Regions from separate parts of the Homo sapiens genome. Here regions 2, 3, 4, 5 and 6 are each linked to region 1. The links come from fine-mapping of genetic effects on gene expression. A gene starts in region 1. Each other region holds a variant in brackets. All regions are shown on one strand. Distances are from middle to middle.

The links.
Region 2: its variant is fine-mapped to the expression of RGS9 in whole blood (TOPMed, PIP above 0.99).
Region 3: its variant is fine-mapped to the expression of RGS9 in whole blood (TOPMed, PIP above 0.99).
Region 4: its variant is fine-mapped to the expression of RGS9 in whole blood (INTERVAL, PIP 0.94).
Region 5: its variant is fine-mapped to the expression of RGS9 in tibial nerve (GTEx, PIP above 0.99).
Region 6: its variant is fine-mapped to the expression of RGS9 in skeletal muscle (FUSION, PIP 0.95).

The regions. Positions count from the first base shown.
Region 1 is chr17:65,134,791-65,139,911 of GRCh38, forward strand. RGS9 (regulator of G protein signaling 9) reads left to right here and starts at 2,580. Exons shown (of 19, transcript NM_003835.4): 1 at 2,580-2,807. The coding sequence starts at 2,751. RefSeq lists a silencer at 2,270-2,769.
Region 2 is chr17:65,171,380-65,176,500 of GRCh38, forward strand. All of the region lies in intron 8 of RGS9 (regulator of G protein signaling 9), which reads left to right. It also overlaps the pseudogene ZNF848P. Among named protein-coding and RNA genes, the nearest start is that of RGS9, 37 kb to the left of the region's middle. RefSeq lists an enhancer at 1,571-2,364. The variant G/A (reference allele first, on the strand shown) is at 2,213.
Region 3 is chr17:65,218,206-65,223,326 of GRCh38, forward strand. The region is part of intron 17 of RGS9 (regulator of G protein signaling 9); the gene reads left to right. Among named protein-coding and RNA genes, the nearest start is that of RGS9, 83 kb to the left of the region's middle. The variant G/T (reference allele first, on the strand shown) is at 2,560.
Region 4 is chr17:65,235,218-65,240,338 of GRCh38, forward strand. No RefSeq gene overlaps it. Among named protein-coding and RNA genes, the nearest start is that of RGS9, 100 kb to the left of the region's middle. The variant T/C (reference allele first, on the strand shown) is at 2,601.
Region 5 is chr17:65,165,300-65,170,420 of GRCh38, forward strand. RGS9 (regulator of G protein signaling 9) reads left to right here. Exons shown (of 19, transcript NM_003835.4): 8 at 2,901-2,982. Among named protein-coding and RNA genes, the nearest start is that of RGS9, 30 kb to the left of the region's middle. RefSeq lists an enhancer at 1-2,849. The variant T/C (reference allele first, on the strand shown) is at 2,458.
Region 6 is chr17:65,108,878-65,113,998 of GRCh38, forward strand. LOC100507002 (a long non-coding RNA gene) reads left to right here. Exons shown (of 3, transcript NR_110801.1): 3 at 1,839-2,218. Among named protein-coding and RNA genes, the nearest start is that of RGS9, 26 kb to the right of the region's middle. The variant CTTTTTTTTTTTTTTTT/C (reference allele first, on the strand shown) is at 2,789.

The sequences.
Region 1 (5,121 bases):
CAGCTTCCTCTGCTCACCTTTCATTTCTCCTTCCTCATAACTTCAGCTTGCATTTGGTCTCAGCTTCCTGTGGCCCTGACTTTATCTGACTCAAGTTGGCATTTGTGAAGGTAATAATCTAACAAGCTCCTCTCCGTTTTTCAGATCCACATCATGGTCCTATCATGTGGGGAACTGGCCTCTGGTCCAATGAGCAAAGATGGGTCCCACAAAATGTAGTTGCTTGGAGAGCAGGGCCTGACAGAAGGGGTGGGGAGGAGAGTGGCAGGCACTGAGGCCTCTCCTATTCTATTAATGAGCAAAGTGCCTTTTATTTTTGCCTCTCTTTGCTCCTGAATAATTTTTCTCATCCTTCATTTTAGGAAAGCCACTTATCTTCTTGATGCTTAGGGTTTCTAGAGACAAGGGATGTTGAAGCTGGAAGGAACTTCATAGCTCATCTTGGTCAGATCCCAGCATGTGCTCTGTATAACACTAGGCTCAAAAGATGCTTCATGAGAAAAAAAATCAAGATATTCCAGCATTTTCTTTGGATTTAAACTCACACCAGGCTCAAAAGATGCTTCATGAGAAAAAAAATCAAGATATTCCAGCATTTTCTTTGGATCTCAGCTCACACCAGGAGCATACTTCTCAGTGGTTCAATTTGCTTGGCAGGATCTCTGGTCTTCTGCTTGGATGGATCTCTGCAGGGTCCAGCGTCCTCTAAATTGGAGGCTCTGAATCAGGGATTCCTGAAAAGGCACAAGAGAGGCCCAAGCATGAACCTCTTGAAATTGTTTGCAAACTTCAGTCAGTGTTGTGTACATGTGCATGTGTGTGTGTTCCTGAGTGTCCATAGCTTTCATCAGATTCTTACAGGTAAATATCACCCGAGAGAATGGATAAGAACCACTGCTTTTTTTTTTTTTTGAGACAGAGTCTCACTCTGTCACCCAGGCTGGAATGCAGTGGCTCAGTCTTGGCTCACTGCAGCCTCTGGGTTCAAGTGATTCTTGTGCCTCAGCCTCCTGAGTAGCTGGGATTACAGGTTGCTCCACCATGCTGATTGATTTCTGTATTTTTAATAGAGATAGGGTTTTGCCATGTTGGCCAGGCTGGTCTTGAACTCCTGACTTCAAGTGATTCACCCGCTTGGGCCTCCCAAAGTGCTGGAATTATAGGCGTGAGCCATCACACCCAGCCAAGAACCACTGCTTTAAAGGGACATTGGTTGACTGTGCCTTCCTAAGGTAAAGGCCTTCTTGTTTTCTTCCAACTTAAACATTTTATCTGCTACACTCAATAACCATCGAGTATGTTTAAGAGAAAGTGCTTTATATAACAAAGCAGAAAGGCTCTTGATAATAACTTAGAGGCTTCATCCTTGCATTTTTCTCAAGATGAAAACGCTAACATAATGAGCTGTCAAGGTAGGTTCATCAATTGTAACAAATGGGCCACTCCAGTGGAGGATGTTGATCATGGGGGACGCTGTGCGTGCGTGGGGAGAGGGGATATATGACGTGTCCCTATACCTTCCGCTCAATTGTGCTGTGAACCTAAAACTGCTCTAAGAAATAAAGTCTATTAAAACAAGCAAACCAGCCAGCTGCAGTGGCTCACTCCTGTAATTCCAGCACTTTGGGAGGCCGAGGTGGGTAGATCGATTGAGCCCAGGAGTTTGTGAAACTCCCTCTCCACAAACAATTTTTGTAAAAATTAGCGGGGTGTGGTGGCACGTGCCTGTAGCCCCAGCTACTGGGGAGGCTGAGGTGGGAGGATTGTTTGAGCCTGGGAGGTTGTAGCTGCAATGAGCCATGATTACGCCACTGCACTCCAGCCTGGGTGACAGAGCAAGACCCTGTCTCAAAAAAAAAGTTAAACAACAACAAACCCAACAACCAACTAACCGAAACACTAAGAATCAGAGAAGTAAAATATAATTCGCTTCATCCAGACAGCTAGCCCGGTGAGGACTACAACCTTCCTCTCTTCCTTCTTCACTTCTTTGCTCTCTCTTTTTAAACCCACATCTTAGCAATTCCTCTGCTATTGGGTCATTAAATCGCCACCTCTAATTTTTTTTTCTAAGCATTTATTGAGGGCCAAGCACTGTGTTACACATCTCCTCATTAAAATGGTATAGCAACCTTTTCTGGTCGATATTATGATCCCATTTTTCAATTTTTACTTTTGAGTGAAGGACATTGATTCTTAGAGATTGTAAGGAACTTGCCCAAGGCTGCCGGCTGGTTAGTGGCAGAGCTGGGATGGGAAAGTCCGTATTTTCCACCGCGCTGTATTAGTGAGGGCTCTTTGTGTCACTTCTGTGCATAACTCCGCCCCAAGTTAAAAGGCTCGCTGCTCTCGACAGGTCCTCCTCCTCCTCCCGCTAGGTCCTCCTCCTCCTCCCGCCAGGTCCTCCTCCTCCTTCTCCTCCCGGGGCCCTGCCCTGCGGGTCTCACCTGCTGCTCCGCGGGGTCCCGGCGGGGGCCGGATAGCGCCCCCTGGCGGCAGGTGGGCGCCCGCGCAGCGCATGCTAATGAGCCCGCGGCGCCGCTCGCGGATTGGCTGGCGCGGATTCCAGCTGCTTTCCAAGTCAGCGGCGCCTAGTGAGAGTCAGGGGGGCCCGGCCCGCGCCCTCCCCGCCCAGCCGCCTCCCCGTCGACGCCCAGGGCTGGGGCGAGCCAGGCTGCCTTTCGAACTTGGGGGGCTTCTCCTCTTGTCTCCCACTGGTGCTCTGGCTGTGAATCCATCCAGGGGCCAGGATGACAATCCGACACCAAGGCCAGCAGTACAGGCCGAGGATGGCATTTCTCCAAAAGGTAACCCTGGCCCCTCACCTGGACCCTGGGAGGAGGGCGGGGGACCGCATCTGCGAAGCGTCCGAGGACAAGAGGGGCAGGAGTGGAGAGCACCCCTTTGGGTCGATTTGTGCTGCTCGATTTTATTAAGTGACTTCTTTGCTGTGTGTGTCGATATTGATGGCTATAATAATTAGGTTTTCGTGTGCCCTGCCTGTAGTGGAGAATCTGAAGCCAGCGCTGATGGTCTGCGGGAGGTGAAAACAACCTGTTACTCGGGAGAGGCAGGTTCAGTTCAGGCTGTGGCAGATTTGAGACAGCCTGCTGATATTGTTGTAAGACGACCAGATGTGACATTGCCATTTTTGCCTTTTTTTTCTGATCCCAAACTGCACTATTTTAAAGTGTGTGTGTGTGTACACATAGACCATGAAAACGGGGTGATTTGTAGGATAAAGGGCCACCCCATTTACAATGCCCTGAGAGCCCTCATTTGAGTGTGTCTATCTGTGCATCTCCTGCTGTCTGCGCTGGCGGCAGAAGTCCCAACCTTTTCGCTTCCCTTGCGAATGCTTTCCCAGACAAAGTGACCGGGCACAGGGTGTGCACACAGGATGGACATGTGGGAGGTGGAATGCACCTGTGGGGTGATGTGTTTGGGGACAAAGTGGTTCATTTAGTTCTGAGCTTCTGGTATAATCACTGTCCGATGAGATCTACAGAGGATTAGGTCCCGGGTCACATCTTTGTCCTTCCTCCCACCCGTAGCCACTTTTCACAGCGTAGTGTCCATCTTCTTAGGCTTATCTTGTTGAGTAGAATTAGTTGAATGTTTTGTGACAAGCTGAGCTCTCCCTGAGCCCCTGGAGCTCAGCAAATTTGTATAGTCAGTGACCGCTGTCCTGATTTGCCCAGGACTTTCAATGCTAAAACCTGGACAGTCCTGGGGACCCCGAGACGGTCGCATTTGGTCCACCTGTTTCAAGATGCTCGTGCTCATCTTCCGGGTAGCAGAGGTGTGGGTATCATCTGTAAAGCAGACAGGCTGAATGTTGTCTCACTCAGAAAGAACCCTGAGAGCCTGTATTGCAGATACCAGTTACTAAAAGCAGAAGAAACTGCCTAAGTCGGCTATCTCAAAGCCACACATCATCTTCCAGGATTTATCCTAGGACTGTCTCCTCCCAGGCAGGACAGCTCTGGCTTGGGGGCTCAGAGGGTAATTGTCAAGAGATAAATTCAGTTTGTTTATTGAATCTCTGGCATTCTTTTCCATCATGACTCTTCTCTGGTAGATTCTCCTCTCCTTACCTTGGTCTTCTGACTAGTGTCTTGGTCTCTAGTTTCTCTCCTCCACCCCAGGCTTCCCTCCTCCTCCCCAGCCACCCCTCCTCCACCCCAGCATCCCCTCCTCCACCCCAGCATCCCCTCCTCCACCCAAACTCTCCCTCCTCCACCTTAGTCTCCCTTCCTCCACCCTAACCTCTCCCTCCTCCATTCCAGCTCCCCTCCTCCACCCCAGCTCTCCCCCCTCCACCCCACCTTTCCCTCCTCCACCCCAGGTCCTCTTCCTCCACCCTGTCTTCCCCTTCCTCTACCCCATCCTCCTCCTCCTCCCCAGCCTTCTCCTCCTCCATCCTAACTTACCTCTCCTCTACCCTAACCTCCCCCTCCTGCATCCCAGCTCCCCATCTTCCACCCCGGTCTCCCCTCCTCCATGACAGCTTTCCTACACACACTGTTTTTTTCCCCCAAATCAATGGTGACCTCCTTGACCTGAAACGCTCCACTGGCTTCCCACATTCCCAGCATAAAGTCCAACCTTCCCCTGAGCAGCCTGGTTACCCAGGATTCCGCTCCCACCATCTTCCTGGCTTTGCCTCCTGCCTGCCTTCCACACCTGCCCTCTGGGAAACAACAAAGCAGCCACAGGCACCCCTGGGCTCCTGCCTCAAACACTTCCTTCCTTTTTAGGAACCCGGTGCCCTTTCATGCCTCAGGGTCCGTCTGCTGGGAAAGTCCTTTCTCCCCCTCTCGCTTGCCAAGCTCCACTTCTCTTCCCATGCCCAGCTCAGTCACCCCTCGGCTGTGAAGGCTGGTTCTCCTAATGCCCCTGGGCAGGACAGCTCCCTTCTCTGTGCACTACAGACCTTGCCACACCTCCAGCATTGCTCTTTCCCTAGACCTTGTGCTGGCAAGGGCCCTGTCTATGTATCCTCTATATCTATGTATGTATTGGTCATGTCACAGAGCTCCTTGGAGCAGCAGACAGAATAAAGGTCTGCAGAACAGGTCTCAAGAGCCCATGCCAGGCGATCCTTAATGAAGAACCAGC
Region 2 (5,121 bases), 37 kb after region 1:
TTGAGGCTCATAGAGGTTCAGTAGCCTGCTCAGTTCTGGGAGAGGAAGCCACATCTTTCTGATGGTAAAGCCCGATATTCTGCTTCTGTGCAAGGAGGCCCCACCCGTGGTCCCTCTCTCAGCTCAAGGAGCTCAAAATCCAAATTGCTGGAGCACAGGTGAGTGACACTCTCCCAGAGATAAGACCTAATTGCAGAAGGGGCACAGCGAGAGGGTGATTGATTTAGAAAGGCAGGGAGAAATGTCTGATAGATGGTGTTTCAGGGAGATCATCACTGGCAAAGGCCAAGACCCCACGTGGGTGGTGGTAGTTGAGGGCTCTGACCTGAATTCCTACCCAGAGCCCAAAGGACACCTGTGATTCAGCATCCTGTAATGAAGGAAAACGATGTTTCTCACCTGTTTTTTACTCAAATGGAACCAAGTACAGATCTGAGCACGATGCAAACAACAGTGAGTTTTGTAAATGAACAAAGGGAGAAAGTGCTCCCTTAGACAGGCATGTGGAGGCCTTCCCTGCATCTTTGCTGTGCCATCTGTGACTTCCTGCCTCCCAAGGATGTAGTCTGAGGCTGCTTCCTGGCGGTGGGTGTGCTTATCTGCTTATCAAGCTAAATGACCCTTGTTTCAACCACATATGCAGACACTTGCCAGAGATGTCTGCCCTCCATTTCCCATCGAAGTTAGGCTAAATGTCCAACAATGGAAAATGGCAAAATAAATTGAGGTATATTAACATGATGGAACATTGTGAAGCTATTCAAATAATATTTTCAAAGGCCATTCATTGATCTAGGAAAATGATCTGACATACAATGTGTTTTTTGTTTGTTTGTTGTTTTTTGTTTGTTTTTGAGACAGAGTCTCGCTCTGGGGTGCAGTGGCATGGTCTTGGCTCACTGCAACCTCTGCCTCTTGGGTTCAAGCAATTCTCCTGAATCAGCCTCCTGAGTAGCTGGAATTACAGGCGCCTGCCACCACACCTGGCTAATTTTTGTATTTTTAGTAGAGACGGCGGTTTCACCATGTTGGCCAGGCTGGTCTCGAACTCCTGACTCTACCTTGGCCTCCCAAAGTGCTAGGATTCCAGGCATGAGCCACTGTGGCGGCCTGACACATAATGTTATATTATAAAACCAGGGTGGGTGGAATGCTCCATGTGCCATGGTCCAAAAATAAAAAATAAAAAAAATTAACATATATTTTGTGAATATCTGCTCTATGCCGGGTGCTTACTAGGCATTGGGGATATTTGGATTATGAGCCAAGACAGACATTGCCCGTGACCTCAAGGAGTTTCTTGCAGTCTGGTGGAGAGACAAAGACTAAAATGATTAAACCAATGAATGAGTAACAAGCAGAATGCCATGGCAGCTGGTAGGAGGCAGGGGCTCTGCGTCCGGTTGGGGGTCAGGGAACACAGGACACAGGACGTGGAGAGTGACATTCAAGCCAAGATCCTCTAGGAGCTGACTTTCCTAACACAGCAACATAAAATTGTCTCCCTGTTTCACCTCATCTCTATTTCTTTTTTCTTTCTTTCTTTCTTTCTTTTTTTTTTGAGATGGAGTGTTGCCCTATTGCCCAGGCTGGAGTGCAATGGCGTGATCTCAGCTCACTGCAACCTTCGCCTCCTGGGTTCCAGCGATTCTCCTGCCTCAGCCTGCCGAGTAGCTGGAATTACAGGTGTGCGCCACCTCGCCTGGCTAATTTTTTGTATCTTTAGTAGAGATGGGTTTTCACTGTGTTGGCCAGGCTGGTCTCGAACTCCTGACCTCATGATCTGCCGGCCTCAGGCTTTCAAAGTGCTGGGATTACAGGCATGAGCCACCGCGCCTGGCCTCATCTCTATTTCTTTCCCCTGTCTTATTTTGTTTAGAAAACGAGTTAGTGTTTTACTTAGTATTTGTTTTCTGTTCCATGCACCAGAAGAGTCTGATATTTTTGGGAAGAGAGTGAAGCTGAGAGAAGGAGGGGCAGGGGGACACGGTGGAGTACCACCGAGAAGTGTCCGTCAGCTCCACGCTGGCCTTGCTCTGTATGTGGGTTCCTGGGAACATCGCCTCCTCACGAGCAGTTGTCACGAGTACAGGAGCTCCTTTCCTGACCTGAATGATGATGCATTGAGCAAATTGCCTCTTTGGCTTACACCCAAGGGATGTTGTTTGTGGGGGGCGGGGTCATACCCTGGTGTTCACAGTTCCTCAGGGTG[G/A]AGGAGGGGAGCTTGCATGTCTCTGAAGGCTTCCTGCATGAGGCACCAGGGCAGAAAGTGCCTGCTGCCTCCTTATCTGCGGGCCACACACCGCAGGATGCATCGGCTGCCCTTATTTCCTGGGCGCTGACAGTCAGTTCTGGTTAACTTCATCTGAACACCCTGTTATGTGCCAGAAACTGTGTCAGCAGCACTCTGGTGATGATCATAGTGGGTCAAAGACTTTACACTACCTGATGAATGAAGAAATGGATGAATGAAAGGAGCTTGGGAGTCTCTGAAACCAGCAGAGGCAGAAAGGCAGCCCTCTCACCAGTTTCGAGGGCAGGGAACTGGAAAAGGACCACAGCTTGATTGGGAACAACTGAGACTTAAGGGCTGCTGCCCACAGAGGTGCAAGAGCCGAGGCAGCAGTGGCCAGAGGACTGTGCCTGGCTGTTCTGTAGGGAAGGCATGGAGAGCCAGGTTGGGGCTGGAACTGGACAGGCTGGCAGAATCATGAAGCCCAGTGGGTGGCTGCAGGTCTGAGAGTCTAAGGCCGTCTGGTCTGGGCAGCTGAGGGCATAGAGGACTCTATCTCAGTTATGCAGTGCACTGTTGAGCACTGGGGCAACCAAATTTATATCAGAGCCTGGGGCACATTGGAAGGAAAGAACTAGATAACGAATTCAAGACTTGAGCAGATGACCACACCGAAGTCACCGAGGCAGTGAGCGCCTGTGGAATAGCAGCCAGACACTGGTTGTAGGGCATCATGAGCACAGGCTGTGTGTGAGTGTGAGTGCATGTCAGTATGTCTGGGTGTGCATGTATGTGAGTGAGTGTGTGAATGTATGTGTGCGAGTGTGTGTACATGTGTGCATGTGTGTGAGCATGTATGTCAGTGTGTTGGCGTGTCAAGGTGTGCATGTATGTGAGAATATGTATGTATGTGTGAGAGTGTGTAGATGTGTACATGTAAGTGAGCATGTATGTGAGTGTGAGTGTGCATATGTATATGTGAGTGTGCCTAGGTTTGTGCATGCATGTAAACATATATGTGTCAGTATGCACGTGTGTGAGTGTGTGAATGTGTTATGTGTGAGCATGCATATGTGTGTGCATGTATGTGAGCATGTTTTTGTGTATTCATTCTCATAGTGTTATAAAGAAATACGCAAGACTGGGTAATTTATAAAGGAAAGAGGTTTAATTGACTCACAGTTCTGCATGGCTGGGGAAGTCTCAGGAAACTTACAATCATGGCGGAACGGGAAAAGGCACATCTGACATGGTGGCAGGCGAGAGAGAGCGAGTATGTGAAAGAGGAACTGTCAGACACTTATAAAACCATCAGATCTCATGAGAACTCACTATCATGAGAACAGCATGGGGGACACCACCCCCATAATCCAGTCACCTCCCACCAGGTCTCTCCCTCAATCCCTGGGGATTATGGAGATTACAGTTCAAGATGATATTTGGGTGGGAACACAGAACCAAACCATATTAATGTGTGTGTGTGTGTGTGTGTCAGGACATGTGTGTATGTGAGTGTGTGTGAGTGTGCATATGTACATGTGGGAGTATGTGTAGGTGTGTGCATGTATGTGAGCATGCGTGTGTGAGTGTGCCAGTGTGTCAGGGCATGTATGTATGTGAGCATGTGTGAGTGTGCATATGTATGTATGAGAGTGTGTGGGTGTGTGAGTGTGAGTGTGAGAGTGTGTGAACGTGCCAAAGTGTGTGTATGAAGTCTGCCTTCAGTTATGCAGGGGGATTTCTCCATACCAGATTCAGGGGGCAACTCCTAGAACCCTTTTTGGCAAAGGCACTGACTCTGCTGAGCCCCTGCCATGTGAGGTTAGATCCCATGGTGTTATCCCTTCAAGACACCTGTCTCAACTCTAATTTATCCTTTGTGTGATTAATTGCTGAGTGGCTACCTCCCCCTTGAGACTGGGAGTGCCTCAGTAATGCCTGCTGGGGAGCAGTGGTCTCGGGGCACACTCACCATGGGCTCCCCAGGGCTCAGCACAATGTCCGGCACATAAGAAGTGCCCCATAGATATTTGCTGATCAAGATCCACTTGTAACAACTAGGGTAAGGATGGCCATTCCCTTTCCCTGTCCTCCTCCCCACCCACTTTCTATTGCCTTTTCCTTTCTCTTCCCTGTGTCGTCTTGTCTGCACATATTTGCCTCCATGGTAGCCCGGTGAGCTAGGTTGCTAGATTTAGCAAATAAAATACAGGAAATTTGGTTGAATTTGAATTTCAGATAAACAACAAATAATTTTTATGTAAAATGTATTTTGTATATTTAGTATAAATATATAATAAGCATCAAAATATTGGGACAGAAATTATTTGCCATTTATCTTAAATTAACTGGGCTTCCTACATTTTATCTGGCAGTCTTACATCTGAGCTAAAACCCAGTCTGATCCCATGGATGAGGCTGAATTTGATGGCAAGAAAGCCCAGTTGCTTCCCAACTCTCTGCTTCAGTGTAGCCAACCTGGTTGGTCACATGTGCTGAGCAATGGGTGGATGCCTGGCATCACACCTGCATCAGGGGAAGTGAAAGACCCAAATTATTGGTCTCAAAGAGTCAAGGAGTTGAGAGAGACCAAGTAAGATTTTCTGGAGAGCTGGGTTACCTGCTGGCAAAGGGAACTAACAGAGATTACAGTCCCAGTTTTGGGCCATTCTTTTACATATGTAATCTTAAAATGAATACAACCCCTTGCTCAGCAATAGCTACCTTCTGTGGAGAGCTTCACACCCTATCTTGTTAAATCTTCACAAGAACCTGCCACGTAGGAGGATTCTTCTCTGTTTCTTAGAGAGGTTAGTGAGTGCCAAGACAAGGAGTGTTTTCCAAGATCTTCTGCACAGCTGGGAAGTGGCAGAACCAGGAGTGGCACC
Region 3 (5,121 bases), 83 kb after region 1:
AGGAAAACTTTGGAATTCCCAGCAACTTTGTCAATGGGAAATGCTGTGGGATGGCCACGGGAAAGAGGGAGGTGTTGTCTTCCAGCAGTCATTGACTACTTTCGATGCAGAACTTTAAGAAACCCGCTTGCTATCAGCTTCCAGTCAGAACAGCACTTGTAAAGGGTTGATCCTTAAACATCGCTAAATGAACACATCTCTGTCTTGTGGTTCCAGGAATTTTAATCCTTGAAGCTAGATGGTATGAGAACAGCTTTTTTTCTGAAGCCAGGCTTGAATGGTAGGGGAAGGAATGTGGACTTTGGGGTTAGGCAGACATAGTTTTGATATTTTAGCTGGGTGGCTTTGACCTTCAACCTGTCTGAAGTTATCATTTCTCTTAGAATGTTATTGATAGTAGAGAGTGTCTGGCTTAGGGTGGATGCTCAGAAATAGCTCTCTCTCTCTTTCCTCCCCCTTTCTTTCTGTCCTCTTCTCTCACTCTCTCTTTCTTGCTCACTCTCTTGCTTCTTGTAATCTGCCAAGGCTGGGATCCAGAGTTCCAGCTTCTGTGAATAGAGGGGTCAGGCTCTGATAACAGTTTTCCTCTATCTGTTATGACCACTCAACATTCAACAGAGATATTCAGCACCTGTTACATGCCCAGCATCCTGCTAAGTGCTTGGGATCACCAGTGAGCAAGAGAGACACCCTTGCGGCATTTGCTGTTCAACAGGAGAGACAATTAAACCAAATGGTGTGATATTATAGGGAAGCCACATAATGTTTTGGGAAGGGTTGGCAAGGACTGCTAGCCTGGTGAAGGCAGTGGAGACTTGGGGAGATCAGCAGAGGCTAAAGCAGAGGGGTGGGCAGGGCCAGGCAGGGCAGTTCGTTGGTGATCAGGACCAGTGGCCAACCGGGACCATCCATCCTGGAAAGCTCTATGCAGCTCCTAGGGACTCAGGGCTGTGTGCATTTGTGTGGCTTCACCATGATCTCAACTCCAGGTATCAGCTCTTTTCCACCTTGCACCTCCCTCTCCCCAACATCAGTGTATGCCAGTGCTCTGCTTTCCAACCCTGGAGTCCACCAGGAAATTCTCATGTTTGGTAGTGAAGGGACTGCAGGTTCTGAGGGCTTGCAAGCATCTGTGGCTGCTGCTATTGTTCCAGCAGGTGGCAGCTTCTCCTGCTAATGTTTAAACTATGTGTCCCACAGGGCCCGTTGAAATCCCAAATAGCATAAAAAATAAACATTTATTTGGACAATATTAACGATATATTTAAATCACTATGAAAATCTCTATTATGCCGTGTCCTTAGACACCTTTGAATTCCTTAATGTTATATTTTAAACAACTTAACAAACCCCTCTATCCATGGGGTGCATAGCTTGTGCTAGGATATAAGTTATTCTGTAAGTACAAGGATTTCCTTTATAGAGTTCCATTTTCCAACTTGACTTTTAGAGAAAAGGCTGCTTTCATTGTGAATATTAAGTAAAAATATAAGGGCCAGGGACAAAATATGAGTAAAGACCTAAGACAATTCTTGGCCTATTATAAGCCCTCAACGAACACTAGCTGCTATCATCATCATCACCACCATCATCATTGTCACCACCTTCATCGCCATCACTATCACCATTATCACCATCACCACCATCACCATCACTATCACCATCATACCATCATCACCATCATCATCATCACTATCATCATCACCATCACCACCATATCATTATTATTATCATCACCGCCATCCTCACCATCACCATCACCATTAATACACAATCATCATCATCATCACTATCATCATCACCATCAACATCACCACCACTACCATCATCACCATCATCACCATATCATTATTATTATCATCACCACCATCCTCACCATCACCATCACCATTAATACACCATCATCACCATCATCACCTAGTAGCTTCAGTCTTAGAGTAAGCTTGTGCTTTCTTCTAGCTGTTGGTGTTGTCCAATATAGTAAATCATTATTCTTTATTTAAGGCATTTCCTGAGAGATATTTAAAACATTGTCATCTCAAACCATCTATCTTCTCTGTTCTTTGAGAATTTTGCAGTGCGGTCCTCCAGCTCTCCAGAGAACGTTAGGATATATTTGAGGGGAGGAGGGGGAGAAGTTGATGTCATGTCCTCTGTCTGCAGCTTCTAGGAGAGGACTGACCAGCAACAGTGTAGTGACTGGTCAATCCTGTAGTCTGGAGTTTCATGGCTGAAGTAAGGGTCGTTGCTAACTGAGAAGGTCTTGTGCTAGACTGTGTCAAATGGGATGACCAGTATGGGGTCATGCCATGTGTTCACCCATGGCAGAGTTTTCCCCATGGGGCTAACTTTGCACATTTGCTTGGGGGCGGTGGGGAAGGGGAGAGTGGGAAGGCACTGGAAGAGGGGACTTTGCACACTGCATGCTGCACCTAAATGTGGCCCTCTGCTCACCTTTCTGCTCCCAGGAAGTGGGAGTTCAGGTGGCCCCAAGGTCTCTTTCAAATTCTCAACCACATTCCGAGGACAGAAAATGAATTTCATCTCTATGCACTACCT[G/T]CTTTGCCATTCATTAAAATGCCTGTGATTGTGTTCTCATGTTAACATACCTGTTTCATTTCATGCTCCTTTACTCCCTTCTCTTGGTTCCCTTGTACAATAAAACAGCAGCATGAAACAAAACAATGCTAAGCTCTCCTTCACTGTGTCTCTGTGGTGTCACATTTCTTTGCCATGTGTCATGCATGCCACTGCTTTGCTGCCTCACACCAATGGTAGGTGGGGCATGGGCTGGAGGGGCTGGGTCTCCAAGCAGAGCCCCAGGCTCCATGGGAGGGACCAAGGTGGGGAATTGTGGGAACGGGTGGAAAAGACATCTGCTTAGATTGTCCAGGACCAGTAAAGCTAATGGTCATTTGCCCAGAAGAAAGGACCATCTCAGGCCAGGTAAGTGGCCATCTTCCTCGCCTGTCTGTCATTCATCCCAGAAAAGAGAAGATGCTAGGGGAGGAGTGGAGCCAGAGATGGACCGAGAGAGGTAGGAGGGTGGGAGGAGGGCACAGAGTTGGGGGAGGGCATATAGAGAGGCTGATCTGGTCACAAACTTTGAGTTTTGTCAAGTTGCATCATATCCATGAACCTCAGTTGTCTTATCTGTATAGTGGGATGATAGAAGTTTATCACAAATTCTGAGGAAGTGGAATGGAAGTTAATTCTGTATCTCTCTTGACAAAGCCGAGTTCCTAGTTTTGGTATTTTTGGATGGCAATGTGAATCAGCAAGGAAAGCAAGGCCCTTTGGGTCACACAGACCTGGCCTCAGGTTCTCATTTAGTCACTGCTTCAGTTTTCTATTGCTGCATAACAATGACCACAAGCACCAGCCAGGTATGAGCTCAGTTTTCCAGGAGACATTTGGCTGATGTCTTGTTCAAGGGGCTGTAAGGGAATTCCATAAACTAGGGAACTTATCAACAACAAACACTTCCCGCGGTTCTGAAGGCTGGGATGTCCACGATGGAGGCCCCAACAGATTCGGGGTCTGGTGGAGTCCCACTTTGTGGTTCATAGATGGAGTCTCTTCACTGTGTCTTCCCACGGTGGAAGGGCCAACCTAGTGCCCTGGGGTCTATTTCATAAGGATACTGATCCTTTTCACAAGGGCTCTGCCCTCATGACTAATCACCTCCCAAAGACCCCGCTTCCTAATACTATCACCTGCAAGGGGAAGGCCTTCAACATATACATTTTGTGGAGGACACAAATCTTAGACAGCGCAGCTGGGTTCTCAGCTCAGGGTCTCACATTCAAGGTGTCAGCCAGGCTGACGGGGTTCTCATCTGGATGCTTCTAAGAAGAATCTGCTTCCAAGCTCATTTGGGTTGCTGGCAGGATTCAGTTCCTCGTTTAAGACTCAGGTCACTGTCTTCTTGCTGGCCATCAGCTGGGAGCTGCTCTCAGCAGCTGGGGGCCACCTGCATTCCTTGAGATGTGCCCCCTCCATCTTCAAAGCCAGCCATGGAGACCTTCTCCCCAGTTGAATCCTTGCCAAGCTTCCGATCTCTCTGCCTTCTGCCTCTGGCCTCTAGACTCAGATGGAAAGGGCTCCTGTGACCAGCTGGAGCTCACCCAGACACTCCCCCTTTTTAAAAGTCAGCTATGCCTCATCACATAGCCTGACTGGGAGTGACTACCCCATCACATTTATGGTTCACGTGTACACTCAAGGACAGGGGTGGGAATCCTACATGCCACAGTCACTGTGATTCTACATGCCACAGTCACTGACTAGTCATGAGAGCTGGTAAAGGGTAATGAGCCCCTGTGGGCCTCAATGTTCTGTTCTCTAAAATGGGGTGGTTATAGATAAGCAAAGTACCTAGCATGTAGTAGATACTTGATACATCTACGAGCCACCCTTTTCCACCTAACAGTTGTCTCCCAAGCCCCTAATCAAGGCCCAGCTTTCCCTGCTGTACATTCTTTGCAGAATGTGTCCTAAGTAGAGTTGCACCTCCCTATAGAAGGGAAGGGGTTAGAAGCTTAGTGCAGAGTCCCTTAAGCTTACAGGGCAGAATAATCTCAGATGTCAGCTAGAAATGCTTTCCTTCAGTCGCACCCCCCTGATATTCTCCTTCAGTGGGGCTGTGGTGGGGCCAGGTTCTGCCTTTGTACTAAGCACCCTGAGTGATTCTGATGTGGCCGATCTGTAGACCACACCGAGGCATCCCGCGAGCGATGACTGCGCCGACTCCGAGTCAGCCAGTTGGGTTTCAAAGTCTGAGCCCACTGTTCCTGGCAGGGTGTCCCTGGAGGAATGGCTGGACTTCTCTTAGTGTCCTCATCTGTAAAATGGGGATAATAACAGTTGCCTCACTGGGTGGCTCTGTGGAGCATGCAATAATCCACAATAGTGGATTTGCAATTACAGTAATAATTGCAATTATAATAGTTATTGCAAATGCAATAATTCATGATTATTGAGTAAAGTGCTCAGTCCAGGGCCTCACATTTGCTGTGTTCTCACTGTGAATTAATGATGTGATTGTTATTACTATAATAACCCCATGGCCCTGGGCGTGGGCCTGGCTTTTGCTCTGCCACCCTGTGGGATTCTGGGCAG
Region 4 (5,121 bases), 100 kb after region 1:
TATACATATAAAGGAATATTGTTCAACCTAAAAAGGAAGGATATTCTGACACATGCCACAACATGGAAGAACCTTGAAGATGTTATGCTAAGTGAAATAAGCCAGTAATAAAAGGACAAATACTGTATGATTCTGTTGGAGGTGTTCAATCTCGAGCAACTCCATCTTGAATAGAGGCTGGGTAAAATATGTCTGAGACATACTGGGCTGCACCCATGAGGTGAAGGCATTCTTAGTCACAGGATGAGATAGGAGATCAGCACAAGATACAAGTCATAAAGACCTTGCTGATAAAACAGCCTGCTGTAAAGAAGCCAGCCAAATCCTACCAAAACCAAGATGGTGACGAAAGTGACCTCTGGTCACCTTCACTGCTCATTATGTGGTAATTATAATGCATTAGTATGCTAAAAGACACTCCCACCAGTGCCATGACAGTTTACAAATGCCATGGCATTGTCAGGAAGTTACCCTATATGGCCTAAAAGGGGGAGGAACCCTCAGTTCCGGGAACTGCCCATGCCTTTCCCAGAGAACTCATAAATAATTAAACCCCTCTTTAGCATATAAATCAAGAAATAACTATAAGTATCCTAGTCCAGCAGCCCAAGCTGCTGCTCTGCCTATGGAGTAGCCATTCCTTATTCTTTTGCTTTCTTAATAAACTTGCTTTCACTTTCCTCTGTGGACTTGCCCTGAATTCTTTCTTGCTCAAGATCCAAGAACCCTCTTTTGGGGTCTGGATCAGGACCCCTTTCTGGTAACAATTCTACTTATATAAGATACCTAGAGTAGTCAAATTCACAGAGACAGAAAGTAGAATGGTAGTTGCCAGGGGCTGGGATAGGGATGGTGGGACTGGGGAATCAGTGTTTAATGGGCACACAGTTTCAGTTCAGGAAGACAAAAACAATTTTGGAAACGGATGGTGGTGATGGTTGCACAACAATGTACTTAATACCACTGAACTGTACACTTAAAGATGGTTAAAATCATAAATTTGATGGTATGAATATCTTAACACAATAAACAAAACTAAAGTCATTCTTATCAGAAGACTACAAAAATAAGCTACTGGCTGGATTTAGCTCAAGGTCAAAGTCTGTTAAACTTTGTGCCATATTATTATTAATTTCATTATGTTTTTAAACAAAATAACTCATTAGCGGTGTTATTATTGTGTATTATAGTCAATTCTTTTTTAGCATCAGCTACAAGTTTACCCAAATTTGTGCTCATCACTCCTCTTTGGATACCACTTCTTTTTCCTGGTCCAGTTTTCTTTGTACTGAAGTGCATCCTTTAGTGATTCTCTCACTGATGGCCTTGAGAGAAAAGTCTATTTTTTTGTTTTAAAAATGTCTTTATTTTATCCTCAACACTATTTTACCCTATTATTATTTTAATCATTTACTATTAAATAATCATTTAGGTGAATTGAAAAAGATAGGTTGAGAGTAATTTCTCCTTGGGAATTCAGATAGTATTTCATCATCTTTTGTCCTGTCTTGTTGCTGATGAGAGGTTCAATTACTGTTGCTTGTTGTGGGAAGCCAGGAACCCCAAATGGAGGGACCGGCTGAAGCCATGGTGGAAGAACATAAATTGTGAAGATTTCATGGACATTTATTAGATCCCCAAATTAGTACTTTTATAATTTCTTATGCCTGTCTTTACTGTAATCTCTGAACATAAATTGGGAAGATTTCATGGACACTTATCACTTCCCCAATCAATACCCTTGTGATTTCCTATGCCTGTCTTTACTTTAATCTCTTAATCCTGTCATCTTGTAAGCTGAGGAGGATGTATGTCACCTCAGGACCCTGTGATGATTGTATTAACTGCACAAATTGTAGAGCATGTGTGTTTGAACAATGTGAAACCTGGGCACCTTGAAAACAGAACCGGATAACAGCAATGTTCAGGGAACAAGAGAGATAACCTTAAACTCTGACCGCTGGTGAGCTGGGTGGAACAGAGCCATATTTCTCTTCTTTCAAAAGCAAATGGGAGAAATATCGCTGAATTCTTTTTCTCAGCAAGAAACATCCCTGAGAAAGAGAATGCGTCCCTGAGGGTGGGCCTCTAAAATGGCCCCCTTGGGTGTGGCCGTCTTTTATGGTCAAGCTGTAGGGATGAAATAAGCCCCAGTCTCCCATAGCACTCCCAGGCTTATTAGGACGAGGAAATTCCTGCCTAATAAATTTTTGGTCAGACCGGTTGTCTGCTCTCAAACCCTGTCTCCTGATGAGATGTTACCTATGACAATGTGTGCCCAAAACTTCATTAACAATTTTAATTTCCTCCTGGTCCTGTGGTCCTGTGATCTCGCACTGCCTCCATTTGCCTTGTGATATTCTATTACCTTGTGAAGCACGTGATCTCTGTGACCCACACCCTATTAGTACACTCCCTCCCCTTTGAAAATCACTAATAAAAACTTGCTGGTTTTGTGGCTTGTGGGGCATCAGGAATCTACTGACATGTGATGTCTCCCCTGGACGCCCAGCTTTAAAATTTCTCTCTTTTGTACTCTGTCCCTTTATTTCTCAACCCGGCCGACGCTTAGGGAAAATAGAAAAGAACCTACGTGACTA[T/C]TGGGGGCTGATTCCCTGATAGTTGCTTAATAGATTTTCTTCTCTATTTTGCCTCTAAGTACTGGTCTTTGTCTTGAGTGTTCTGCAGTTTCCCTATAGCATGTCTAGGTACAGAGGTGTTTGTGTTTATCCTTCTGGGGGTGATGCTTCTTCCATCTGAGGACTCATATCTTGTTTCTACTCCGAAAATTCTCATTTATTGTCGCTGGATAATGCTTCCTCCTCCTCTCCATTTTCTTTGCTCTCTCTCTTTTGGCAGCTCCTACTGCATGTTTGTTATACCTTAGGGAGAAGTGTCTCTTTTCTCGAGTCCCCTTTTCCTGCCCTGGGCAGCCCTTCAGGAATTTCACCTGATGGAGGGGTCTTAGGTCTGGTTTTCCAAGCCTTTGGACCACAGGCCATTTCCTGTCACTCTTCCCTGGGGCCAAAGTAGTTGTTCTCTTCATTCAGTATTAATTCCAAGTTTTCTGATAGGAGGGAGTTCATGTTAGCTCAGTTGTCCTATTGTTAGAGCTGGGTGTCCACCAAGGACTTTCTTTTCCACAACAACATAGCTGCTGCATATGTGTCATATATTGTTATACACATATATTTCATATACTTAAATGAATATATTTCATATAAATTCATATGTATATTTTATTTATATATACACACTCTGCTCTAAGTTATCAAATTATAGTATTTCCTTCTCCATTGTAGCTCCATTTTAACAGGGACCTCTGGCTTAAGAAAATGCATCTCCAAACTTGGAATTGTAGGCACCACAACAAGCTGTAACTTGGGGACAGGGAGATTCACACTTCTTTGGGGATGCTTTATGAGGCTGGCTCTGGCTTTGGCCCTGCTGTGAAGTGCCTCTTTGATTTCCATCCTAAACACACAAATGTGTCCACACCATCTACCCTCATCATTCCATCCATCTGTCAATTCCTCTATCCATCCATCCGTCCATCCATCCATTCATTTATCCATCCATCCATTTATCCATTCATCCATCCATCCATTCATCCATCCACCCCTCCATCCACTCCTCCACCCATCCACCCATCTATCTGTCCGTCTATCTCATAAGATCCCCTTGGACCCACCAATGTCATATGAGGGTTATCTAAAGCCGAAAACATCTGAACAAACAGCAGCCAAAGCAGGGAAAAAAAGACCCAAAATACCTTATCTAAACTTTTTTCTTTTTTTTTTTTGATGACTTAATAAAAGTCTCCTGAAAATATAGCTACCATAAATACTCTCTCCAGGAGGTTTACAGACAGAAAGGAGATGGACCACTCACACTTGGATAAGAAATTATATAAACAAAAAAAATCAAAACTTTCCATGCTTTCTGCTTGTTTCTCATTAGCTCCCCATCATTTGCTCTCCTGGAAAGTCTTAAACCCCCTTCTTATTAAGATGATGTATAAATCCTTACCTCTCACTATTCAGAGAGATAGATTTTTGGGAACTCTTAGGTATGCAAATAAACTTTGTCTTTTCCCAACCTGTTTTTTTGTCAGTTAATTTGCAGGCCCCCAACCACTGAACCTAAGTTGGTAGAGGGAAACATTTTTCTTCCCCTCACACCATAGCCATCCATCTATGCACTCCTCTAAGTTTCATGGAGGGTCCACTAGGCATTTGGTATGCTATCGTGAATAAAATTAGGCCTTGATCTCAATAATGCATAGGTTAGATGGGGAGCATACTTTTAAACTAAGAATTACAATACACTGTGTTAGGAGTGGCTGCAAAACTTGACAGCTGAGGGTACACACTCTGGTGTCACACTGCTTCCGGTCAGATCCAGGTTCTACCCTTTCCTAGCCAAGTGGCCTTGAGCATTTCACTAAAGCTCTCCAAACCTCAGTTCTCTCATCCATAAACTTGACATCAGAATAACACAGCCTCCTTGGGGGTCAGGGTGTGAGGATCACCAGCTAACTTATGTAAACAGCTCAGATCAGTGGCTGGGACCTGGTGAATGCTTGATGAATATTTCCTCCAAGGTAGTGTTGAAGCAAAGAGGAACCTTGAGAGAGTCTTGCTGGCCCCAGAATGTGGCTCTGTGTGTGTGTATTGGGCTAGTGTGTAGAAAGCATTCGTTCCTTTGATGAACATGTAGCAGAAAAGGTCAGAAACATAAGAAAATAATCACAGAACACTTACATTTGATAAATGAAAAATAACATGTTAAAATATGATCCCATATAAAATGAGAAGGCACTGAATGAAGGAGACAACTACTTCAGTAAGGAGCTGAAATAAAGTATTTTCTGGGATGATCGTGTCCTTGGAAGACTAGGAGTCAGTGTTCAGGGACAAAGAAAGAGCAGTGCCTATTTCAAGCTGTAGGGAAATCTGGGCACCTATTCAGGAACTGTTATGGCTGGCTCTGTGTCTCCACCCAAATCTCATGTTGGATTGTAATTTCCAATGTCAGGGGAGGGACCTGATGGGAGGTGATTGGATCATGGTGGTGGATTTTTCCCTTGCTGTTCTTGTGATAGTGAGTGAGCTCTCACAA
Region 5 (5,121 bases), 31 kb after region 1:
TGGGACATTCCCCTCTTTCATTCTTCCAGGTGCCTTGGAATGAGCGATTCCTAAAAGGCTTGCTCCATTTGAGATGGCTTTTTCCCACTTATTTTATGGCTTAAAGGCTGCCTCTGATTTCAGATTTAGGGTCTCAGCACAAAACGTGGTTGACCATGTAGGTTGGCCCATAAAGTAGTCATTTTGTTATGCTGAGTCCTGTCTTCCAAGTTCCACACTCAGCACCCAGACAGCTACTCAAGATCTCATGTTGCTGTCAAACCTCAAACTTACCTTGTCCATATTCAAATATGTCTTTCCCTCACTCTCCAAACCTCTTCCTCCAGTATCACCCATATCAGTACCTCTACTGCCCCTACCCTGGTTGAACCAAACTCACCGTCACCTGAACCATGGCAACATCCTCCCAACTGGCCTCTCTGCTCCCAATTTCTCCCCATGTTTGAAACACAGATAAGATCACCTCAATCCATCTTCTCTAGCTATCGGGGAGAACATTCACTTCCAATGTTACTTCCTCAAAGAGGCTTTTCTGATTAGCTGTTACTGCACTCAGATCATCCTAAATTTAGTGGCTCAAAACAACAACAATTATTTTATTATGTGTCCTGATTTCTATAGGTTAGGGATTTGGGAAGGTCTTGGCCTATCAATTCTAACTCAGAGTCTCTTGAGTGGTTGCTGTCAGATGGCTGGAGCTGGGGGCCTGGAGCAACTGGGGCTGGCTGGCATTTCCTACTCTCTTCTTGTAGCCTCTCTGTGTGGTCTAGCTTGAGCTACCTCACAGCATGGCGGCATCAGGGAGGGTTGTTAGATTGCTTAGAGGTGTTTGGGGACTTCAAGACCACATATTCCAGTAAGGAGGGTGACTGCTGTCCCACCTTTTATGGCCTGGCCTCAGAAATTAGTGCCATGCCTGACGTCCCATGTTGGTAGAAACCATCACAAAATCCCATCTAGCTTCAAGGGGAGGAGACATAGACACATCTGTCAATGGAAAGAGTGTCAAAGAATTGTAGACATATTTAAAAATCACCACAGAGGCCATCCCTGATGCTGCATGATGGTACTCTGTTTCCTTATGGCAAATAATGCAATTTGCAATTCTGTATTGATTCTTTGACTGTGTATGTGATGTTTAGCTCAAAAGCTACTCAAGGGCAGGGACTATGTTTGGTTCACCAGTAGACTCCCAGTGCTTGGAATATACTGGAAGATCAATGAGTACATGAATGAACGAATGAATGAATGAAAAATTAAGCAAATGCTGTTGCTGAAAAAATCACAAACTAAAGTAATTCCTAGGTTACTAACTCTCTTGCATTCCATTTATCATGACTCTCCTCTAATAACATCTGTTACAGAAAAGCAGAAGAGCAAAGCCGGAAAGGACCCGTGGGGTAAATCAGAGAGTGACTCTATTTACCAGGCTCTCCAGCATTGTGGAAACTGCAATGCCTCAGGCTGGTTGTGGCCCATGCTCCTGAGGTCAGGGGCTAGTTAATGTGGTAGAAAATCCAGTTAGGCTGTCAGGGGGAAGTTTGAAAACAATGTTTATATTTAATTTCCAGAGGAGGCTGACGGAACGCCCAAATGGAATGGCGCTGTTCACCCATCTGGCTCCCTGAGTGTTATGATGTTTTTCACAGTACGTTAACGGGGAGATGAATTCGCCGACTCTGTCTTGCAGAGGGCGTGTGCGTCATCCCACGTTGCCTGGGAAAACAAGCATTAACAAGTGTGAGCGCGGGTCTCCGTGGAAATGGTACAGAAGGGGGCCCACGGCGGGATCATTAGTGTTACTTTGCCCCTGGAGGAAGAAGGCCCTGCGTCATTTCCCATCCAGAGTGGGAAAGGGAGAGAGACTGAGAGATAAAAAGGAAAATAAACAGCCCTTTTTTATTTATTTATTTTTTTTTGAGACGGAGTTTTGCTCTTGTTGCCCAGGCTGGAGTGCAGTGGCGCGATCTCGGCTCACTGCAACCTCTGCCTCCCAGATTCAAACGATTCTCCTGCCTCAGCCTCCTGAGTAGCTGGGATTACAAGTGCTTGCCACCATGCCCGGAACATTTTTATATTTTTGGTAGAGACGGGGTTTCACCATGTTGATCAGGCTGGTCTTGAACTCCTGACCTCAAGTGATCTGCCCACCTCAGCCTCCCAAAGTGCTGTGATTACAGGCATGAGCCACTGCGCCGGGCCATAAATAGCCTTTTATAGCAATAAGTTGTGCTCAGAAAAAGCCCCGACGTGGCATGAACTCTTTGCAGTGCCAGAGTAGAAGTTACAGGCACGGAGGAGAGAGGACTCCCCAGGCCAGCATCTTCCTTGTCACCATCCCACAGGGGGTTGCCTGCCTGACCAGACGTTGACTATGTTGTTTGCCCAAACAGGGAAAAGTTAAGAAGCCAGGAGGTCAAATGTCGACCCGGAAGTTCACCCATGCGCGCTGCTCTC[T/C]AATGTTGAAGTTGGTGGAGTTGGTTTGATTTAGGGCTGGTGGCGGCAATATGATCTCAGTGCAGCACTGTCCTGTCCGGGGGAGTTAGACCCTGGCCAGACTCCCAAGTGCAAGTGCCACTTCTGCCAATTGCTAGCAGTGTGACCCTGGTGGGCTGGTGGGGCATTCACCCCCTCTTCATTTCAGTGCCCTGAACTTTGAAGTAAGAAAAGGCCACCGGGAGGATGAAGTGGGATTAAAAGAGTTAATACGTGTCAAAGTGGTTAGAAGGGTGCTAGTACTTAAGTGAGATGTCAGTGCTTGCTGTGTTCATTACTATTACGGTATATGTGAATTACTTGGGCAGGTTGGGAGAGGGGTCTAGGTCATCAGGAATGAGGGGCATCACTAATCAAAAGACACAAAGTCTTCCTGGCCTTACACGTGGCTTTTGGCTTTCCAGGGCTGGAAAGGAGAGGAACAAAGCAGACAGATATGCCCTGGACTGCCAGGAGAAGGCATACTGGCTGGTGCACCGATGCCCTGTGAGTATCCTCCTGCCTGGTGTCCTCTGTCTCTTCCTGTGCCTCCCACCTCCATCCTGTGCTCTCCATACCTGTTGCCAACTCCTCTTTCTCTAGGGCGAGAATTGGATCAGCAGGAGGAGCTGCTCAGTGTTGGGTTAGCATCCAAGTGCCTCTTGGCCAGAAAAGGAAGTTCTCTGCCTGGATGGGGTCTGCTCATGGCCCATCTGTTGGTGTTAGGTAGGGAGGGACCTGAATGAATTTGTCTTTTACGAGGGCTGGGACTTTTTTTTTTTTTTTTTTTTTTGCTAGGATATCATACCTTGGGAAAGGAATATAAGGAGAAAAAATTAGAACGTAGGCCCCAATGGAGGCGCCAATGCAGAAAAATAGAGTCCCGTGAGAATGGAAACTGCTTGGCCAAAGTTCTCCTTGGTGTCTCTAGCTCCCTCACTTTTTCCTCTCCTAGATCCAGTTCCCAGCAGCTGAGATGGGAGAAGGAGAAGGAATACGTCTGTGTTGAGCTTCTCCTTGCTTGGAGCACACTGAATCTCTGGCTTTGGGACTTCAGTGGCCCAGAGGGACAAGCTGTACAGAGCTGGTGTAACTTGCCCCAGCTCATCACTGGGAAATGGTAGCCTCATTCCCCAGCACACAGAAGTGGGGTCTGACTGCTACATACTGGGATTAACTCTGCTACCTCAGTTTCCTCCTGTACAGCTCCCTGTGCTGCCTATGGGTCATGGGAGGTAGGAGATGTGAATGAGATTCTGGAAACCGAAGAGTTAGAAAGAAATGTTCTTCCTCCTCTTCCTTTAGCTTCCTTGCCTGCCAGGTATCAGAAATTCTCAGAAGCAGAAGGAGAACTGAGTGAGGCCTGGTGTCAGAGTTTATGGATTTTTGAGTTTCAAGCCCATCCGATTTTGGCTGTTTTGCTTATATTCTTTATATACTGAAAACAGATTCTCCTAAGGTGTTCCACTCTGTAGCGGCATGGGTTTGGATGCTGTGTTGCTGAGGTTAAGGTGCTGAGGTTGATCCCAAACAGCTTGTTTGATTTTTTCTTTGCTTCAGGGTTTCTCCTCTAGGGAAACCAGTTTACAGATGCCTGACGCAGGTATCTGGGGGCCGGGTGACAGAGCACAGGGTCCCAGAGATAAGCACCCCTCCTGGTTGGTAGCGAAGAAACTCTTTGTATGAGAAGGAGCCTCACATTGCTCGTGTGTTCCAGAAGCACTCTGTGGTGAGGATAAGGAGACATGGCGGATATGCCACATTTGGCAAGACACCTTGGTGCCCAGTGGCACCATACCTGAGGGTAGGTAAAGAACGGCTTCTATATTATGTGCAGAGACTCCTCACTGTGCGAATGCCTATGTGACTACATTCCTTGCAAAGTGACATAGACTAGCTATGCATTAACATGAAAAATTGATCATCCGGGTTCTTCTCAGTTCTTCTGGGGTAAGTTCTCAGCCCCCACCAGGCTAGTGGCTGAGTGGCTCTTCACAGGATGATGCTGAATCACATAAATATGACCATGTGTCTCTATGACCACTGCCTCCCCCCCAGCCCATCTCCACCACCATGACCGTCATCCCACCTCCCACTCCCTCACCTCCTTTATCTCCCTGACCTCTACCACCTCTCTTATTTCCCCCACTTTCTCCACCACCTCCACCACCCTTATTGTCTTCATCACTGTGGTCACTGTCACCGTCACCATCACAGTAGACATGAACTGAGAACTCCCAGTGTGCTGGGCACTGTGCTAAGCCTTCTGCATTCTTTTTTTTTTTTTTTTTTTTTTCTGAGATGGAGCCTTGCTCTGTCACCCAGGCTGGAGTGCAATGGCACGATTTCGGCTCACTGCAACCTCTGCCTCCCAGGTTCAACCAATTCTACTGCCTCAGCCTCCTGAGTAGCTAGGATTACAGGCATGCACCACCATGTCCGGCTAATTTTGGCATTTTTAGTAGAGATGGGGTTTCACCATGTTGGTCAGCCTAGTCTTGAACTCCTGACCTCGTGATCTGCCTGCCTCGGCCTCCCAAAGTGCTGGGATTACAGGCGTGAGCCACCGCGCCTGGCCGCCTTCTGCATTCTTATTGAACCTTTGCAGCCCTGTGTGGAAGGGTTTATTATTATTCTCATTGTACT
Region 6 (5,121 bases), 26 kb before region 1:
GTTGATAGGAGCCAAAGAGTTGATTGCGTTTGAGGGGCCCTCCAGGTGCAGATGTGTAGCAGGCAGCGGGAAATAACTCTGAGGAGGGCGGCAAGGGCAGAGTAAATGGGTGAGGAATGACCTTCATTCTTACTGTAGGTCTCCTGTATACCCTGATATTTCCTGTCTCCATTCCTTTGCTTCTGTTGTACCTTCATCCTGGGATGCCTCTCCTCACCCCAGAGCTTGAGGCTGTTATTTCCAGTTGGCTGCTACACATTTCTGTGTATATGTTCCAGAGCACGGCACAAACAAGTTTTTCTCTTTCAAAACAGGCTGCTTTCTTTTGTGTTTCCTGTTTTAAATACTGACTACCACCATTGGCTTGGCAGAGAGGTAGGAAATCTTGGAATCATATTCTCTTGCCTTCACCAAATTGTATACATTATCAACTAAGTTTCAAACACACAAACTTTTGGGAGTCACCTTCAAACCACAGGACCATCCTATGATTGCTGTCCCTTTTGAGCTCCTGTGCAATTAGGATTGCAGTGTCTAAGTACAAGAGACTCATCTATAGTGCTTCTAGTGACCATATTCTCTTACTTTTCCTCATTGCCTCTGCCTGAACTGTGCTCTCTCCTGCATGATTATTTCCTCTGATACAGAAAGGTTTACTCCTCCTTTTTCTCTACTTGGCCGTACCATGGGTTCCCTTCCAAGTTCACTTCCTCTAGGAAGTATTTCTTGATTATTTGTCTTAGTCCATTTTCTGTTGCTCTAACAGAATACCCGAGACTGGGCAATTTACAAAGAAAAGAAGCTTATTTGGCTCACGATTATGGAGGCTGCGAAGTCCAAGGGCATGGCTACAACTGCATACCCTCCTTTTTGCATCTATAATTTTGCACATCTAAAACCATCTATAATTTTGCAAAACAAGGCAAACTCTGCTGCTTCTCCATGAGAGCTTCCATTTGTCTATGAATGACATCGAAGACCTATTGTGTCCTGGATTTATTTGCTCTCCCTTGGCATGCCATGCAGTTTTACCCATTCATGCCTTTGCACGTGCTTGTTCCTCAGCCTGGAATGCTCCTTTTCTCTGGGGCAGAAGCAACAACTTCTTGCCAAATAGCCCATGTTCTCTGAGTTAGAATTACTGGGCCATGAGCAGAAGTGTTGTGTGGGTTTTCAGGCTGAAGTCTTGAAGGGTGAGTACCAATTCTCCATGTTTTTCTCTCTTCCCCTGCACAGTGATGGAGCACATGTAATGGAATGAGAAACCATAAATGGTAGCAGCCTAGAGAGTTGAGTCAAGACATCAAGGGAGGGCCCTGGACACTGCCCAACTTGACTTAGCATTTTCTTAAGAGAGATAAACCCTTGTTGGGTTAAATCTGTGTTACCACAGCATAATCTAAATTATCCTGAGTAATACATTCTCATTTTCTGCCAGTTACAAATCTTTAAGTATCAGCTTAAATCCTCTTTCTTTAAAAGCCTTCCAGAACCAACCCACCCCTAGCCAGAATTGATGTCTTTTCTTTGTGCTTTCACAGCCTGTGTAACTTATGTCTATTTGACACTTAATGCCTAGTATTATGGTTGGTCATGTAGAGTTAGTGACAGAATGAGTAAGAGTATGAATTCCAAAGCCAGACTGACTGGTTCACATATCAGCTCTGTCATTTACCAGCAGTGGGAATTTCGATGAGTTACTTAGACTTCCAGAACTTGGGTTCATATTTGTCCCTCCAGAACCTACCAGAGTGTCCGACATAGTAATTATATTACATATGTCAATAATTATGTTAAATAATACCTGTTTACCGGCCTCCTTCTTTTTTGTCTTGCAGGTTGAAATATCAGTAAAAAACATGCAGACCCAAAGATGGGGACCAAAATCCAAAGCCAGAGGGTCCTGGAAATCAGAGGGTCTTACAACATAACAGGCAGTACAGGCCATGGCTCAGGCTAGGCGTGGAACAGACTGCAGTTCTCTTCTACAAATCAATCTAGACTGGACAGACAGAACTCCAAGGGAGGAAAGAAAAATGAATCTGATGTTACTTCTTGAAACCACATTTTCTGAAGTCACCATTTTTATGTATCTATCAACTCATCATTTTTATGTATATATCAATATGATTTTATGATCTTATTTTTTCCTACTAATGTGATGAATTACCTTGATTGATTTTAGAATATTAAATCACTTTTGTATTCCTGGAATAAACCCTAGATGGATGCTTGATTTTTTCTAATTCCTTAGCAAAAATGCTAATATTTTATTTAGGATTTTGCATCTATATTCACAAGTGAGGATTTTTTTCCTCTCCTGACACCAACCAATTCTCCAACACAAACTGAGTGTCCTACAATTCAATTTAATTCTGACACTACCCAGAGTTAGCATTAGCCTCCACAGATTTAAGGCCTCAGCCCTACAAGACTGTCCCAATCAGACTCCAGTTGCAAGTCCTGGGCCACCCATACTTCTGGGCAACTGGTTACAAATTGGGGGTTCTTATGACCACCTCCCACAGGCTTGACAATTTGCTAGAATGATTAGTGGAAAGCAAGAAAGTGCTTAACTTAATATTACTGGTTTATTACAAAGGATACAATTCAGGAAAAGCCAAATGGAAGTGATGCATGGAGCAAGGCAAGGGAGAATGAGCACAGAGCTTTCCTACCCTCTCCAGGCACACCACTCTCCCAGCACCTTGATGTGTTCACCAACCTGGAAGCTCTCTGAACCCCATCATTTAGAGGTTTTAATGGAAGTTTCATTACATAGGCATGA[CTTTTTTTTTTTTTTTT/C]TTTTTTTTTTTTTTGAGACGGAGTCTCGCTCTGTCGCCCAGGCTGGAGTGCAGTGGCACCATCTCGGCTCACTGCAACCTCCACCCCCCAGGTTCAAGCAATTCTCCTGCCTCAGCCTCCCAAGTAGTTGGGACTACAGGTGGACACCACCATGCCCAGCTAATTTTTGTATCTTTAGTAGAGACGGGGTTTCACCATGTTGGCCAGGCTGGTCTTGAACTCCTGACCTCAGGTGATCCGCCTGCCTTGGCTTCCCAAAGTGCTGGGATTATAGGCATGAGCCCTACATAGCAATGACTGATTGAATCTTTGAACACTGGTGATTACTTCAATCTCCAGCCCCTTGTCCCTCTCCCCTCCCCAGAAGTCAGTGGGTGGGGCTAAAAGTTCCAACCCTCTAATCATGCCTAGTTCTCCTTTTTTTTTTTTTAGTTGTTTATTTTTCTTGGCATGCAGAATAAGAGCTATTGTCTAGGTCTTTCTGGTGACCTCTTCATCCTGAACTACCTAGAAGCCTCCAGCCACTAGTCATTTCATTAGTATACAAAAGACACTCTTGCCATTGTGGAGATTTCAGGAGTTTCGGGAGCCATGTGCCAGGAACCAGGGACAAAACCCAAATATTTATTTTTTCTCATACCACAATGATTGACATTGGTCTGTAATTTTTTCTGCTTATAATATCCTAGTCCAGTTTTTCTATTAAGGTTATGGCCACATAAAAAGAGTTGGGAACTATACTCTGTTTTGCTATTCTTTGGTAGAGTTTGTCCAAGTTTATGCAAGATTGGTATTATTCTTTTTTTTTTAGAGACAGGTTCTCACTCTGTCACCCAGACTGGAGTAGCAGTGATGCCATCACAGCTCATTCACTATAACCTTGAACTCCTGGGCTCAAGCAATCCTCCCACCTAAGCCTCCTAAGTACCTGGGACTACAGGTGCACGCTGCCATGCCCTGCTAATTTTTAAATTTTTGGTAGAGGCGGTGCCTTACTGTATTGTCCAGGCTGGTCTTGAACTCCTAGACTCAAGTGATTCTCCTACCTCAGCCTCCCAAAGTGCTGGGTGTATAGGTGTGAGCCACCACACACAGCCCATGGTATTATTCTTTAAATATTTGGAAGAATTAACTGATGAAGCAAGCCATCTGGGGCTTGGAATTCTTTGTGAGAAGTTCTTGAATAGATTCCATTTATTTATGAGATATTGGCTATTCAGATTTTACTTTTTTATGTGGGCTTTGGAAAGTTGTATTTTTCAGGGGGTTTGTCTATTTTATCCAAGTTGTCAATATTTTGGTGTAAAGACAATAATATTCTCTTATCTTTGTTATATTTGTGGGATCTGTATTGATATTCCTTTCTAATATTGAAAATTTGTCTTTTTTGTTTCTGTTGATCAGTATTGTTTGGAGTCTATCAATATAAATAATATTTTCAAATAACCAAATTTTGATTTCGTTGATTTTTCTCCATTGTATATGTGTTTTCTATTTCTTTTCTTTCTTTCTTTTTTTTTTTTTTTGAGACGGAGCCTCGCTCTGCCGCCCAGGCTGGAGTGCAGTGACACGACCTTGGCTTACCGCAAGCTCCACCTCTCGGGTTCACGCCATTCTCCAGCCTCAGCCTCCTGAGTAGCTGGGACTATAGGCGCTCGCCACTACGCCCGGCTAATTTTTTTGTATTTTTAGTAGAGACGGGGTTTCACCACATTAGCCAGGATGGTCTCGATCTCCTGACCTCGTGATCTGCCCGCCTCGGCGTCCCAAAGTGCTGGGATTATAGGCGTGAGCCACCGCGCCAGGCAGATTTGTTTTCTATTTCACTGATTTATAATCTTTATTATTTACTTCTATTTTCCTTAGATATAACTTACTGTTCTTTTTGTTCTTAAACTAAAAAAATAAATCATTGACTTTCACCCTGTCCATTTTTCGAATATACACATTTTTAAGGTTATAAATAACTCTCTAGTCCCTACATTAGCTGCATCCTATGAGTTTTTAGAAGTTACGTCTTTTATGGGGTCACATTCAGTTCAAAATATTTGCTAATATCTGTCTAGATTTCTTCTTTAATCTATGAGTTATTTAGAAATATATTTTTTATTTCCAGGCCGTGGAGATTATCTTTTTATTATTGAGTTCTGACTTAATTTTATTCTGGTCAAACAACATTCTCTGAATGATTTCAATGTTTTGAAATTTGTTGAGGCTTTCTTTATTGCCCATCATATGATCAATTTTGATACGTTTCATGTACACTTAAAAAGTAAATTCATGCATGCCTGTAATCCCAGCTACTTGGGAGGCTGA